2 separate regions of the Homo sapiens genome follow, and region 1 is linked to region 2. The links come from fine-mapping of genetic effects on gene expression. A gene starts in region 2. The other region holds a variant in brackets. All regions are shown on one strand. Distances are between the middles of the regions.

Region 1 (5,384 bases), 160 kb before region 2:
TTTTCTTTTTTAGCATGTTATGTTTCCTTTAAGATGCATGTTTTTAACATTTTTGACAACTCTAAAATCAGAAATTGTCTCACAATTGAGGTGATAAGAAGCATTGTGTATTAGTTTAATTGACTGTGATTTTCTTTTAGCAGGTAAAAAAATAATGATGTATCAGAAATCAGAGGCATCTTAAATTTCATTAACTATGTTGATAACTCATTAGGAATATAACTAAGGTTCTGCTCTCCACATACTAAACTGTGCAATGAAGGAATCAACTCGACTTTGGCCTACTCTCTGTTTTATTAGGCATGCAACCACCACCCCCTACAGGTAGGAGGATTCTCACCACTCTGGCTAGAATTTGCAGGTGCAGAGCTGGGAGGGATGTTATCAACAACTCCTCACATTCTCCATTCAGTTTCCTCAGGTTGCTTTAGCAGCCCAGAAGAAAGTCACAGATAGGAAATGAGGCAGATCAACAGTTTTCCCATTTAAAAAGAGTATCAGGGAACAACTCTCCATCGTCACCCTTTCCCTGCTTCATAACTGTACAAAGTCAGTTTTTTGGTATAAAACTAATAGGCCATCATTTTAGTTCAGGCCAGGCCAGCACCACCCCTCATCAGGAATACCTAATTGCTTTCCAACTGGCCATTCCCCTTTCACACCCTTACTAACCCCAGATGCAATCCATTGGCAAATCCTGTAAATGTCTCCAGAATCCCATGACTTCTCGCTTTCATGCCACCGTCCTCTTCTGCAATAATCCCCACTACCTGCTCTCTTCCTTGGACCTCACTTCCCTTTAGTCAATTCTCAACCCAGAACCAGAGTGGTTCTTTTTAAATGGCAGATGATGTGACTCTTCTGCTCCGAACCCTCTAAAAGCATTCTTTGTCCTCAGAGGAAAAAAAAAAAGCCATTGTAGTCATTACAATGGCCTACAAGCCTTTACATCAGAGGTCAGTAAATTATAACCTGTTTTTCTGAGGGAAGAAAAGTCTTATTTGGAACACAGCCACATCCATTCATTTATGCATTGTCTATAGTTCCTGTCATGATATGATGATAGTCATGCATTGATTATTCATTTAATATTAGTATTAGCATGCAATAAGATATAGCATTTAGTCAATAATGATTTCAAGAGAAGAACTGCTTATGAGGACATAAATCTGAATGGGAGAAGACCTAGATTTCTCCAGAGCTGTGCGTAATGAGGACAGTCACAAATTAGGGGAGTAGATGGGAAGTGGGCACTCCTGAGCTCTGCAAGTGTGAGCAAGAATAGTGGTTGAGCCATTTGGAGAAGGCACAATAGGTGAGTTAATGAGAAGATAAATGTAGCTGAGAAAATGAGAGAGGTTTTCAGCAGCTGCCTTGAATACAGTGAAACTTGGGAAGATGATGGAACAAATGATTAAAAGTATTCTAGTGAGTATTTCTAGGAAGCTTCTTATATGTTAGGCATTATAAAATCTTTGGGCCAGCTTCATTAAGGAAACTACACCAAAAGCCCTACATGCTCAGAAAACTATAATACTTCCATACCAGCAACATCTTTAGTGGCTCACAGAGGGCAAAGGTTGTATTTTCTTCATCTTTGTATTCCTGCAGCTAGAATAGCCCCTGGCAAATAGTAGGTTTTCATTAGCTATCTGTTGAAGCCGGGGGTAGTGACATATGCTGGTAATCCCAGCACTTTGAGAAGCTGAGGCTGGAGGAACACTTGAGCCCAGGAGTTACAGACCATCCTGGGCAGGACAATGGGACCCCATCTCTACAATTTTTTAAAAAAAATTAGTTTGGTATGGTGGCATACACCTGTAGTCCCAACTACTCAGGAGGCTGAGGCAGGGGGTCCCTTGATCCTAGAAGTTTGAAAGAGCAGTGAGCGATGATCATGTCCCTGCACTCCAGCCTGAGTGACAAAGCAAACTTCTAATAAATAAATAAATAAATAAATATCTGTTGAATTAATTCTAAGACTTAAAAAACTGTTTTAATCTATCTTCTTATCAGAGTCGAGGTGTGGTAGTTAGAGTAACACCAAGGAGAGCCTAAACTGCTTTTTATTGGTCACCGTTTGGGATAGAGGTGCACAAAACTATCGTTTAAATTATAAATGTTACCTAGAAGTGATAACAAATGGAACAATAATGAGTCACTGACACTACCACCAAAATAAAATTTTTAGTTTCATTCTTAGTGTTTGAAAGAGGTTCAGGAGAAAGTGACGCAGGAAAAGTCATTATAATGAAGGATAAAACCACTGCGTAATGGGGAATGAAGAGAGAAGCTTGACAAAAGAAGACAATAGAAGCCTATGAAAATGACCAATTCATTATTTTAGCCATTGACTTTATTATTTCTTGCTCCATATAATTAACATCATGGCTAAAAACAAGGCAGAAATTCTTTTAGGAATAAAATTGTCACAAGCCCTGCCTTTCCCTTCCCCATAAGGTTGATCTAACTCCATTAACTGTCAGTCTTTGATGTAAAGTATCTTACCTGACCTTCCTTCTTAGCCCCTACTGAGAATCCAAAGTAATCTAAGAGCTGTGCATTCCATTGGCAATTGGCATCTTGTAGTTGCCAATTTGGAGAAAATAATAATCTCCCCTATACTTCACCTTTGTGGATGTATTTTCCTTATTGTTTGAGAGGAACATAATACAACAGTAAGCAGATCAACTGGAACCCTTCAATCTGTAAATAAAAGGGCATTGTAAGCTACATGTTACACAGAACTCATTTGCCCAGAAATCTGATTTTATTGTTAGGAATTGGCAGCCCATCCCCAAACATGCACTTTTAATTTTTCCTGAAAAGACCACTATTTTTGTACTGATACTTCCCCACAAGTAGCATCTGATGTATTGCTATTGTCTTTGGTTAAATTAAAAGTGATGCTATCCAATTTCAAGAGCTTCACATAAATAATACCTTATGAGAAAGAAAATCTGTAAGGAATAAATTCTGGATTCAGGTACTGGAATCTTTGGTAAAAGCTTGGACTTGTGGTGAAACTGGCAATGAATTATGAATACTATTTGGCTTTTGGCTATGAGAAGGATAGAAAATCAATCCCAGAATTTCCAAGTATTACAAGCATACCTGAGATGGGTGGTAATATGGTTTGGCTGTGTCCCCACCCAAATCTCAACTTGAATTGT[A/G]TCTCCCAGAATTTCCACGTGTTGTGGGAGGAACCCACAGGGAGATAATTGAATCATGGGGCCCCGTCTTTCCTGTGCTATTCTCATGATAGTGAGTAAGTCTCACGAGATCTGATGGGTTTATCAGATCTAATGGGTTTCTGCTTTTGCTTCTTCCTCATTTTCTCTTGCTGCTTTCGTGTAAGAAGTGCCTTTCACCTCCCACCATGATCCTGAGGCCTCCCTAGCCATGTGGAACTGTAAGTCCAATGAAACCTCTTTTTCTTCCCAGTCTCAGGTATGTCTTTATCAGCAGTGTGAAAACACAGTAATACAGTAAATTGGTACCAGTAGAGTGGGGTGTTGCTGAAAAGATACCTGAAAATGTGGAAGCAACTTTGGAAAGGGGTAACAGGCAGAGGTTGGAGCAGTTTGGAGGGCTCAGAAGAAGACAGGAAAATGTGGGCAAGTTTGGAACTTCCTAGAGATTTGTTGGACTTTGCCCAAAATGCTGATAGCAATATGGAACTTGTTGGGAACTGGAGTAAAGGTGACCCTTGTTATGTTTTAGCAAAGAGACTGGTGGCATTTTGCTCCTGCCCTAGAGATTTGTGGAACTTTGAACTTGAGAAAGATAATTTAGGGTATCTGGTGGCAGAAGAAATCTCTAAGGAGCAAAGCACTCAAGAGGCGATTTGGGTGCTGTTAAAGGCATTCGGTTTTATAAGGGAAGCAGAGCATAAGTGTTTGGAAAATTTGCAGCCTGACTATATAATAGAAAAGAAAAACCCATTTTCTGGGGAGAAGAATTCAAGTTGGCTGCAGAAATTTACATACGTAGCAAGGAACCTAATGTTAATCTCCAAAACCATGGAGAAAATGTCTCCAGGCCATGTCAGAGACCTTCAGCGCCCCTCCCCTCACAAACCCAGATGGCCAGGAAGAAAAGGTGGTTTCGTGGGCTGGGTCCAGGGTCCCTGTGCTGTGTGCAACCTGGGACTTGGTGCCCTGTGTCCCAGCCACTCCACCCGTGGCTGAAACGGGCCAACGTACAGCTTGGGCTGTGGCTTCAGAGGGTGGAAGCCCCAAGCCATAGCAGTTTCCATGTGGTGTTGAGCCTGTGGGTGCACAGAAGTCAAGAAGTAAGGTTTAGGAACCTCCACCTGATTCAGAAGAGGTATGGAAATGCCTGGATGCCCAGGCAAAGGTTTGCTGCAGCAGGGGGTGGGAAACCTCTGCTAGGGCAGTGCCAAAAGGAAATGTGGGGTTGGAGCCCCTAGAGTCCCTAGTGGGGCAATGCCTAGGGGAGCTGTGAGAAAAGCGCCACCATCCTTCAGACCCCAGAATGGTAGATCTACCTACAGCTTGCATAGTGTGCCTGGAAATGCCACAGACACTCAATGCCAGCCCATAAAAGCAGCTAGGAGGGAGGCTGTACCCTGCAAAGCGACAGGGGTGGGGCTGCCCAAGACCATGGGAACTCACCCCTTGCATCAGCGTGACCTGGATGTGAGATCTGGAGTCAAAGGAGATCATTTTGGAGCTTTAAAATTTGACTGCCCCACTGGATTTCGGACTTACATGGGCCTGTAACCCCTTTGTTCTGACCAATTTCTCCCATTTGGAATGGCTGTATTTATCCAATATGTGTAACCCCATGGTAGCTAGGAAGTAACTAGCTTGCTTTTGATTTTACAGGCTCATAGGCAGAGGTAACTTGCCTTGTCTCAGATGAGACTTCGGACTGTGGACTTTTGGGTTAATGTTGAAATGAGTTAAGACTTTGAGGGACTGTTGGGAAGGCATGATTGGTTTTGAAATGTAAGGACATGAGATTTGGAGGGGCCAGGGGCAGAATAATATGGTTGGGCTGTGTCCCCACCCAAATCTCAACTTGAATTGTATCTCATAGAATTCCCATGTGCTGTGGGAGGCACCCAGGAGGAGATAATTGAATCATGGGGGCCATTCTTTCCTGTGCTATTCTCATGATAGTGAATAAGGCTCATGAGATCTGATGGGTTTATCAGGGGTTTCCACTTTTGCTTCTTCCTCGTTTTCTCTTGCTGCTACCACGTAAGAAGTGCCTTTTTCTTCCTGCCATGATTCTGAGGCCTGCCCAGCCATGTGGAAATTTAAGTCCAATTAAAACTCTTTTTCTTCCCAGTCTCGGGTATTTATCAGCAGTGTGAAAACGGACTAATACAGGTGGAAAAGCCCAGGCATGTACAG
Region 2 (5,384 bases):
ACTTTCCAAGAACCCAGGCAGACAACTGCACAGAATAACCACAAAGGATAGACAGCATCTTAGCTATCAAAGTGTTTCTACTGTGGCACTTGTTTTCTACCTCCTCTTTCCTGTAGGCTATTACCTGCTGTATCTTTTCCAAAAGGTCAAGATTGTAAATAACCTGTGTCATTTGTTGACCAATATCACAAAAGAATGGCAAAGTGCCTTCATCCTGTGAACCCTGCCCTGACCTTCCTTGATGATCTAGCTCCTTGTACATCATCTTTATATAACAGTTAGTTCACTGACATCATTATTTGATTACAGGTCTGTCTTTTTCAATAGGCTGGAATCCCTAAAGAATAGGAACATACTCTTCTTATCTTTATCTATTTATTTCTTTGCTTTCAGTCCAGCATATGAAACTATCATGCCATATTAATAACTTATGAAAATATAAAAGAGTAGGCTGGGCACGGTGGCTCACGCCTGTAATCCCAGCACTTTGGGAGGCCGAGGAGGGTGGATCACCTGAGGTCAGGATTCCAGACCAGCCTGACCAACATGGAGAAACCCCATCTCTACTAAAAATACAAAATTAGCCAGGCATGGTGGTGCCTACCTGTTAATCCCAGCTACCTGGGAGGCTGAGGGAGGAGAATCGCTTGAACCTGGGAGGCAGAGGTTGTGATGAGCCGAGATCACACCATTGCACTCCAGACTGGGCACCAAGAGCAAAACTCCGTCTCAAAAAAAAAAAAAAAAAAAAAAAATATATATATATATATATATAAAAAAAGAAATACTTTACTGCCAAAACTACAGAATACTCAAACTTATAATTAACATCACAATTTATGTATGTGTGTGTGTGTGTGTGTGTGTGTGTGTGTGTGTATGTGTGCGTATGGTCTTACGTGGATATAATTAGCTTACCTGGCATCTCTTTTGGACCACCCCAACTGATTTGCACGAACTGCAACTTCTTGGTTAAGATGCCTGGCAATAGTTTTTATTTCTGGCTGCAAATTTTCCACCTAGCTAAAAAATAGGTTTTGTTATGAGCACATAAAGGATCTTTATTCATAATGACTCATAATCTTTCACATTATTCCCTCGAGTCATTTAAAAATGTAGTTTACTGATCATATCAAGAAATCTTAATTCTAAGCACAAGATGTTAATTTGCTTAAAATGTCCTCAGTCACAACCAAATTCACAATGCATACTTATCCATGTGATCCTGTGCAAGTAACTTAACCTCTAAAATCATGTTCCCTCACATATAAAATATATAACAGCACCTACTTCACAGGGTTACAAATATTAGATAAGAACTGCACCCTGGGCTTTACTGTTCCATCTCTACATTTCCTAGTAACGTAAGCGGAGAAAACAGCAGTTTGTTAAGAACCTTTAATACACTGTGATAGCCACAAATCAAAAGTAAAAATAGCATTTATTCCTGCCCTGTGCTCATTCTTCCTGTAAAATGGCTCACTGCCTTAATGTTGCTGCTGATTCCGTTCCTGTTTTGTTTCCGGTTTTTTTTCCCCATGCTCACAACCTGAAAACAAGAAAGCCACTATTTTTGAAATATCCCATTTGAATAATCAAGCACTTTAACCCGTATTATCTGACTTGCTCTGATAACGCTGTGAAGTAGGCAAGGAAGGTACTGCTAGCCTGATTCCTCAGAAAAAAGGATTCAGCATTAAAAGGTCAAGTAACTGCGACCAACCAGACACAGTCTTAGTCGGGTCTGGAGAGGAAACAAGTTCGCAAACTGTTAGTCTAGTAGTTTCTTCCTAATAAGAAAGACCAGCTGGAATACTTTGGGACGAAAGACACTGCAGACATACTGGCTATTAAAACTTTTAAGACATAAATTTTGTAGGTTTCGCCAACACAATTTCTTCTGCGACTGATTTCTTTGTCTCCGTTCCCCGAGAGCAAGTATAGTAACCACTTGTGCTTGGAGCACAAATCCAGTAAGACAAAAGAAATGACAGGTACACGTGTCACAAAGTATCTTATTTAACACACCTAATGCTAGTTCAATTTTTTTTAACGCTAAAATGGTCACAATGAAATGGTCACGATGATTAAACACTAAGCACTGCAGAAGGCAACATCGTGCGATCGAAAACCCTGAGTGAATGTCGGCCTTCCTCCGCCGCAGGGGTTGCAGCGCAGGGTACGCGCACGGCTCGGCGCCCCTCACCTTGGCCAGGATGTAGTGCTGGTAGGCTGCCAAAGGCAGCGTGACAGCACCCCGTAAGGCCACGGTGGAGAGCAGAATGCTGCCCCACCAGGGCAGGCCCGTGGCGGCGTGCACGCCGAGCAGTACTTCCTCCGCAACCCGCACCGGCGAAGACGCGGCCAGGGCCTCGTACCAGCCGTTCGCATGTACTGCAGAGACTGGTGCCACTGCCCACACTGGGAGAGTGGGGCGCTTGGCGCCGCTCGTAGGAACCGGCGCAAGCGGCAGGTCCCTAGCCCAAAGCTGCAGGGCAGGGAGCGGCCGCAGCCACCGACCGCCGAGCCGGCACAGCATTTCTGCACCACGGCGGAGCCCAGATCCCGGGCCTCACAATCCAGCGGACATACACCGGCCAGCCAAGGCTGATACGCGCACGCGCCAGCAACAGCGGGCATAAAGCGCATGCGCGCCTGCCTGCAGCCGCGATTGACCTTCCCAGTCAAGCCGGTGACGTCTTGCGTCGCAGTGGATGTGACGCAAGAGATAGGAAAGTCCCGCCTTTCCCACGCGGCACTGGACAGGCCTACTGCGCACACGCGAAAGTTTCCCGCTGCTAGGGTGTAGTTAGTCCGAGGCCGGACCAAAACTGCAGAGACATGGGTGGAGCCTGCTGCCCTCCGCCAGGCTGGGTGTTCTTTAGGGAGCTCTCGCCTTGTAAAGTTCATCTACACCGTGTAACTTACCATTCTTTTTCACTAAAGCTAATAGTCATTTGTAGTGGAATTATCCTTGCTCGGTTTTTTGTGACCAGAAGCTGATCCCCAACCTCTTTACGTGCACCTGATTGCTTCCGTTAGCGATTACGATAGATTATCATACTCAAGAGTCACACGTTGCTAAAGTACCTGCTTGTAGAGAGACGCATGTTTCTTGCTGACTCTGAGTGTTAAGCACGAGGGATAGTTCAGTCTCTTGTAGATTTAATTGGCCCATCTGTTCCAGTTAGTATTTGGACCACCAACTGCAAACTGAATTTCTTCGGTGTTTTGTCTTCCATGATAAATAGCAGCAAAAATCTTATAGTAAAAGTATCATCTCTTTATTTAAGGGAAACTATCACTGGCAGTACGGTGAATTCCTTGAGTTTACTTGTATCCTATATAAGCTTTAAAGAGCCTGAACAGCAGCACTGGCTGTCTTCTGGTTTAAAGGAATACGTTGAATCTACATGGACTATATAGTTTTAACTTTTGTGTTCCTGGAAACAACAAAATGGAATGTTGTGGAGGAGTTTCCTCACCGAAGGGTCACCCCTAGACTACAGACTAAAATATGTTGTGAGGAGTAAACCTTGATTTTTATTTATTTATTTATTTACTTACTTAGGAAAAGAAGCCTCCAACAATGTTGGGTAATGTCAAACGCCAGCTATTGTTTGCCCTTCACTGTGCACCTAACCAAGGGTACCCTACGATAACTTTCTCAGGATTCTGGAATTCATCTGCTTTCCAAACTGACTGATAAATCTATACATGAATTTTTAAATGTGTTTAAACACACAGCACAACACACACTATATATAAACTTTTTCTAAAAGAAAAACCTACCAATCTATTTCTTTATCCATTTATTAAGCTAACAAAAAAGCCATCAGTTGCTACTGACTACTGTTCAGCTGTTCATAATCTGAACAGAATTTTAAAGTTATTTTTGCTAGACACAGTGGATCACGCCTGTAATCCCAGCACTTTGGGAGGCCAAGATGGGAGGATACCTTAAGGGCAGAAGTTAGAGATCAGCCTTGGCAACATGGCAAGACCTCATCTCTACAACAAATACAAAAATCATCCAGATGTGGTGGCTTGCATCTGTGGTCTCAGCTACCAGGAGGCTAAGGCGGGAGAATTGCTTGAGCCCCCCGGAGTCCAAGGCTGCAGCGAGCAATGATCGAGCCAGTGCACTCCAGCCTGGGTAGCAACAAGATTCCCATCTCTTTAAAAAAAAAAAAAAAAAGCAAGAAAAGAAAAAAAAAAAGCTGTAAGCTGTTCTTCAATTCCTAAGATTTAATTTTGTGGAGTTCTATCGGGGTCACAAATGAGATTTCAGTGTTGGAACACATTTTTTGCTATACATTGTGTTCATATATTACATTCTTATTTTAAAAAGTATTTCCTTAAGTTTGAATATTGATCTAAATAAAATTTATGAATATTTAGTTTCTGCTAATTTCATATATGTGTATAAACACATTTCTTAATCTATATAACAGGGATGACTAGAACTTGCTATCTACTTGGTAGAGGATGTTGGGGGAAGTAGTTGTCAATTTTAAAGCCCAATGCAAAAGAAAAGTGTTACTACTAATGTATAGGTACTGTTTATACAACATTGTGATTATTTTGTATCTTTTGTTTCAGAGTACAGTACAAAATGATCTACAACTATTGAGTGGACCAACTGAAATCATTTGTCAATCCTCTTTGCAAATGAACTTGTGCAATGTATTAAAACATTTTTAAAGGTTCAACATTTATAATTAGCTTATTCCAGTCTTTGATATTAGTGTTATGTCAGTTAATTTCTCAACTTTAAATTCCTTAAGAAGAGACTACGTATTACATTTTCTTTCTGCAGTCTCTGTAATTCTTAACCATCATGGTGCCAAACACAGGAATGGAGCTTGCTATGGACTGAATATTTTTGTCCTCCCCAGATTCTTTTTTGAAACCCCAAGGTGATGGTATTTGGAGGTAATTCGTCTTAAGGGTAGAGCTCTTGAATTGGGTAAGTGCCCTCATAGGAAGAAACAAGGCTGGGCATGGTGGTTTACACCTGTAAATCCCTGTGCTTTGGGAAGCTGAGTGGGGAGGATCACATGAACCTAGGAGTTTGAGGTTGTAGTGAGCTATGATCATGCCACTGCACTCCAGCCTGGGTGACAGAGATCCTGTCTCTTGGAAAAGACAAAAGCAAGATGACCTTTTTCTGCCCTACACAAAGAAACTGAAAAGGAAACAGCCATCTGCAAACCAGAGAAAAGGCCCTCAACAGAAACCATAAAGGCTGGCATGTTGACGTTAGACATTGTAGCTCTCAGAACTGTGAGAAACACATTCTGTTAATCTCCTCAGTCAACAGTATTTTTGTTGTAGTAGCCTGAATTAAGTGCTGAAAATTTGAATATGGGGTGTAATTATCA

The links. PIP is the estimated chance that this variant, and not a neighbour inherited with it, causes the effect. A credible set is the group of variants that fine-mapping cannot tell apart.
Region 1: its variant is the best candidate, but not a certain one, in a credible set for the expression of COX18 in whole blood (INTERVAL, PIP 0.60).

What each region holds. Positions count from the first base shown.
Region 1 is chr4:72,909,346-72,914,729 of GRCh38, forward strand. No RefSeq gene overlaps it. Among named protein-coding and RNA genes, the nearest start is that of COX18, 160 kb to the right of the region's middle. The variant A/G (reference allele first, on the strand shown) is at 3,174.
Region 2 is chr4:73,067,111-73,072,494 of GRCh38, forward strand. It overlaps COX18 (cytochrome c oxidase assembly factor COX18), which reads right to left and starts at 2,606. Exons shown (of 6, transcript NM_001297732.2): 1 at 2,207-2,606; 2 at 919-1,019. The coding sequence starts at 2,539. LOC112268467 (a long non-coding RNA gene) reads left to right here and starts at 2,836. Exons shown (of 2, transcript XR_002959797.2): 1 at 2,836-2,919; 2 at 4,603-4,712. RefSeq lists enhancers at 1,925-2,440, 2,375-2,894, 2,441-2,957.